2 separate regions of the Homo sapiens genome follow, and region 2 is linked to region 1. The links come from fine-mapping of genetic effects on gene expression. Tissue or cell type: pancreas. Region 1 holds a variant in brackets; the other region holds the start of a gene. All regions are shown on one strand. Distances are from middle to middle.

Region 1 (2,685 bases):
TGCGGAGGCTGAGGTGGGAGAATCGCTTGAACCCAGGAGGTGGAGGTTGCAGTGAGCTGGGATCACACCACTGCACTCCAGCCTGGGTGACAGAGCGAGATGCCATCTCAAAAAAAAAAAAAAGTTTTATCTGATCCCTTCAAACTATGCCTTTCTGTTGCATTCTTGGTCTGGGCCTTCCGAGAAAATGTCCTTTTCTCAGAGGTGATGAATCAGGCCACATTCCTCCTCCACCTTCCTGAGAAGCTCTCTCAAATGCTACCTCTGTTCCCAGGGTCTCCCAAACCCAAATGCCGCCTGGCCCAGCATCCCCATTCAGAGTCCTCTCCTCACACACAGCCACTCTGGCTGGCTTCCCCCACAGCCCCCAGGTGACCCTGTGTCCATTGAGAGGCTGCCTCCCTCTCACTCCCCTGTGTCTCTGTTGCTCCTTCTAGTGGAAGAACCTGAAGGTCTTGATGCCGGGGAGCTGGCAATCAGTCAACCCTCAGGATGTCCCTCCTATCCTCCACTATATCCAGGGTCTCTTGGGCACCACAGTTCTTCCCTTAGCCCTGTTAGGGCAGGCGTCTCGCACTGCCCCCCTCTGCTGCCCACCTCCCACTCTCACCACTGGCCCAGGGCATGGGGTGTACCATCAGGCACATAGGCCTTATCACTGTGCAAACACTTCCTCTTTCCCCAGTGCTGGTTCTCACACAATTGGTAATCAGTGTAAACTTCCTCTGACAATTTACTGAGCAAACATTTACCATACAACTGCCCTATGTAGGGCTCTGTGCTAAGGCCCATGGGGAACCCAAGCCTGGTCTCCACCTTGGGGCATCTCGAGTCTGGTAGAGATGAGGCACATGAGGCGTCTCAGATGCCGCGGGTCTTGCGGACCAGAGCACCGCGGACTGGAATCCCATTTCTGCTCTCTACTCCCTGTCTTACCTTGGAGCAAGTGACATCCTTTCTGATCTTGAATTTCCTTAGCTGTGAAATGGGAGTAATGCTGTCTAGGTTTGTTGTGAGGACTAACTAAGATCCCTAGAGGGCCTGGCAGAGCACCTGAGATAAGGACATTCCACAGTCCCTGTGGTGCCACCTTTCAGATATGAATTGAGGGGTCCCTATATACTACAGGGTCAGCCAATCATCTAGTCAACAAGAACACATTCAAAA[C/T]GGAAGTGTTGGGTAAGTGGGGAACACACATGAACATAACACACATACACATAAGGGTATAAACATAACCCTTTAGTTTAGCGGGAGTGGGTGGTGGTAGGAGTTAGTGTTTTTTTAATTAAAAAAAAATTTTATAGGAATGAGGTCTCACTGTGTTGCCCAGGCTGGTCTCAAATTCCTGGACTCAAGCAATCCTCCCACCTTGGCCTCCCAAAGTGCTAGGAGGGGGTTAGTTTTAATATACCCATATGCAACAGCAAGAGATTATTATGGGATAAGTCTGTTTCCTAGGTAAATGCTTATCCTGTGGGCACAGCCTGTGAAGGAGATATCTCTGTAGGCCTGCGGGAGTTGGGAAATTTCTCAGTGTTGAGGAGTCAGCACACAAAATCAGAGGAACGCAGGCAAAGCAGTCATCAGCATATCAAGGCACAGGGGAGTGATGGCTTCCCTTCTTCACTCCTACATCAAAACAGGCAACCTAAATGGACCTTTTTTTTTTTTTTTTTTTTTTTTTAATGTGGTGACGGAGTCTTGCCCTGTCGCCCAGGCTGGAGTGCAGTGGCGTGATCTTGGCTCACTGCAACCTCTGCCTCCCAGGCTCAAGCAATTCTCCTGCCTCAGCCTCCCAAGTAGTCAGGACTACAGGCACACACCACCACGTCTGGCTAATTTTTGTATTTTTAGTAGAGACGGGGTTTCACCATGTTGGCCAGACTGGTCTCGAATTCCTGACCTCAGGTGATCCGCCCGCCTCGGCCTCCCAAAATGCTGGAATTATAGGCGTCAGCCACTGCGCCCTGCTAATGGACAACCTTTAAACCTACATGTTTGGCTATTTCTTAGTATTTTAGGGTTGCTTCGTGCTCTGGCCTGGGTTTGCAGGAAAAATGGGAGAGAAGAGGAGAAAAGGGCTGGAAGAGGCTTGGCCATGGTAGAAGGCATGGGTGGGTGTGAGGAGAAGGAAACAGAGTGATGGGCCAGCAAGGAGTCACAGGGTTTCGGGATCTGGGCTAGCGACCCTCCTGGCCTCCAATGGGCTAACACGGAAAAGAGGGATGCTGATACTCCTGGTGTTGGAGGAAGATTCTGGGGAAAGACACCAAGAGGAAGCACAGGGCAGCTACAGATGCATCCATGGACCGAGCATGAGCTTTGGTGTGAAGCCAACCTCGGTTTCCATGGGGCCTCAGCACTGACTAACTGTGTGACCTTGGTCAAGTTACTTTACCTCTTTGAACCTCAGTTCCCTAATCTCCAAGTGAGAATAACAACATCTGTTTCATAGCTCTTTTGCGAGGACTGTAAATTGTATAGCACAGAGCCTGCCAGAATGTAGGCGACCAAGTTCCCTTCCCCCTTCTCAAGCTTCCAGGAGTGCCCCAGAAATACAAGACTGGCTATATTTAGTGTCTGGCTCCCTCCCCCGACAACCCATGGTTAAATTAGAATGAAACTATTTATGCTAAAGTCTCTGAAGTTCTAAAATTCTCTGGCAATGTGAGTAGACTGGGTGGG
Region 2 (2,685 bases), 130 kb before region 1:
TGTAATCCCAGCACTTGGGGAGGCTGAGGCGGATGGATCACGAGGCCAGGAGTTCAAGACCAGCCTGGCCAAGATGGTGAAACCCTGTCTCTACTAAAAATACAAAAAAAAAAAAAAAAAAAAAAGAAGTTTTGCAGTCCTAACTCATTATCTGTGGGATTAGCGACACACTGGGAAGGCAATAGCCAATACCTACAGAAGGCAGAGGGTAAATTGAGCTTGCATTTGTGTGTGCCTGTTGAGGGAAGATTAGCCACATTAAAGCAGAGGTAGAGGCTGCCAACAGTTTGTCCATCCCCTCAAATAATCCTTTATTGCTCTAGGAAGAATACCAGGCTCCACATTCAGTGTTCCCATCACCTATTCTGGAATGGATAAAGAGTTTTTAATAAGAAAAACGTCAGCTGGAAAAGGTAAATGTTCTTTCAAAACCAAAAAAGAATAGAAAGAAATTAAGTGGAGAACTGAGGGAAGCTTGGAGAAAGAGGTCTGAAGAAAGTGCAGCAGCTGCAGAGGAAGCATTTATATATGTTATATACATGACATCAGGTCATCTAAATGCCAGCTCTTCAATCAATGTTAGCCTTTCTATAAGAAACCTGACTTGGTTTGATGATGCCACAACGGCGAGCACTGGGGAAGCCCTCTATTTCCCTTGGAAGAGAGAAGCTCATTAATATGTGTATCTAGATGCTCAGGCACCACTGACTAATAATAACAGCAGGGTGATCTTCCATTTACACCATGTTTTACCGATTGCACAGCATTTTCATACTCATTGCTCTACAAACTACCTCTTTGCCATGCAGCTACCAAATAGCCAGCGGCTTCTAGTTCACATTTGTCAAGAACACGTCCCTTGTTCCTATGCCCACAACCTAGGTTACCACCCCAAAGCCTGCAGGCCACATACCTGAGTATGCTTACGGAAAAACACCCCTTGCACCTTCCCAAAAATTTCATAATCCACTGATATCAGGGTGTTTCCTTCTGCCATGCTCAAACCTGTCAGAAACCAGGAAAGCAGAAGAGTGAAGGGCTATTATTCCAGGACCCGCAAGCCTGAGTCAGAAAGGGCCACACCCACCCCTGTCCATCCTTAACCATTGCGACCTCTCCCCGACTTCAAGGTCCTGGAAATGGAAACGTGAGTGGATGTGATAAGGTGTGTGTGAAGGAAGAACCAGACGCCGGGAGAGGGAGCTTCGGATCGCAGCTGCCCGCTGAAGCCTCTTCTGGGGAAATAACCTGAGGACCGATGACCTCCTTACATCCATGCCCGGTCCCGCTCCCTCACTACCAGAATTCCCTGCTACTAACTCCCAGAATCCCCTGCTACTAACATTTTAGGGCTAATCGACCTGAGAAGCACACCCTGGGGGCCCCTGGCGGCTCACCCTCCTTGTCTTCCCCACCGGCTGCCAGGATCACTCCGGGACCACCACGCCAACGGCTCACCAAGGCGCGCAAACCTCCGCGCCCGGAAGTTTAGTGTGTAGCTGCTCCTTCGCTGTCGCTCATGCCCATCACCTCCAGCTGACCAATCAGAGACGGCGCCTCGGCCCGGGCCCGCCCAGAAGGTGGGATTTCAGGACGCGGTTGTCCGGCAACCCAAAAGCTTTGGGTTGGGGATCTGTCCAGGAACTCGGCTGGGCCTCCACAAACCTAGCCCTCATCGCATCTCAGTCAACAAGCGCAACCCTCTTCTCATTTTCTCATGAGGAGAAAGGCATAGACGAAGAAGTACATGGGGATACATTCAATCATTCAATTAAATACTGACTGACAGCTACTGTGTGCCAGGCACCTGTTCTAGGTGACCAGGCAAACATCAGTGAACAAAACAGGATCCCTGTCCTGAGGAGCTTAATTCTGGAGGTGAGAGACAAACAGCACACATTAAACATCATAAATAGCTTGTAATCTCAGCACTTTGGGAGGCCGACACGGGCGAATCACTTGAGGTCAGGAGTTCGAGAGCAGCCTGGCCAACATGGTGAAACCCCGTTTCTACCAAAAATACAAAAATTGGCCGGGCATGGTGGCGGGCGCCTGTAATCCCAGCTACTCGGGAGGCTGAGGCAGGAGAATCGCTTGAACCTGGGAGGTGGAGGCTGCAGTGAGCCGAGATTGCCCCACTGCACTCCAGCCTGGGCAACAGAGGGAGACTCTGACTCAAATAAATAAATTAATAAATAAAAAAATAAACATCATAAATATGTTGAGTAGGATACATTTAACCTTTCTGTCCTTTTTCATTCAGTTCTCCTTAAAGTTTGGGTCATAACAATCTGGAATAGGGGATTACGGGGCATAAGTGCACAGGAGGTCCCAATGGAGGTTATGTCTGCTTCTGGGCTTCTGGAAGCTACTCACCGGTCTCCTTTACTAAGAAAATGTCAAATAATGCTTGAACAAATAACCAGCTAACTACACAAATAAAGCAAGAGCACAAGCAAAATAACTCATGGCTCCAGAATTACAGTTGAGTCAGTCAATCTAAGCCAAATGGCCAAACTACACGAATTTATTTTGGGAACAGGGAATTGTCAAGGGGGATGTGGATGAAGATGGTTAAAATTAGAGTTGATGTGTAAACATTTGAATCCAGCTACCCTTATGATTCATGTGTGTGAAGGAAAACTGTGGTGTTTATTGATCCTCTGTGGATTGACTGTATACATT

What was found. PIP is the estimated chance that this variant, and not a neighbour inherited with it, causes the effect.
Region 2: ACYP1 starts here. The variant in region 1 is fine-mapped to the expression of ACYP1 in pancreas (GTEx, PIP above 0.99).

Annotation. Positions count from the first base shown.
Region 1 is chr14:75,196,012-75,198,696 of GRCh38, forward strand. No RefSeq gene overlaps it. Among named protein-coding and RNA genes, the nearest start is that of TMED10, 21 kb to the left of the region's middle. The variant C/T (reference allele first, on the strand shown) is at 1,168.
Region 2 is chr14:75,062,557-75,065,241 of GRCh38, forward strand. It overlaps ACYP1 (acylphosphatase 1), which reads right to left and starts at 1,468. Exons shown (of 3, transcript NM_001107.5): 1 at 1,398-1,468; 2 at 914-1,005. The coding sequence starts at 997. RefSeq lists an enhancer at 1,639-1,808.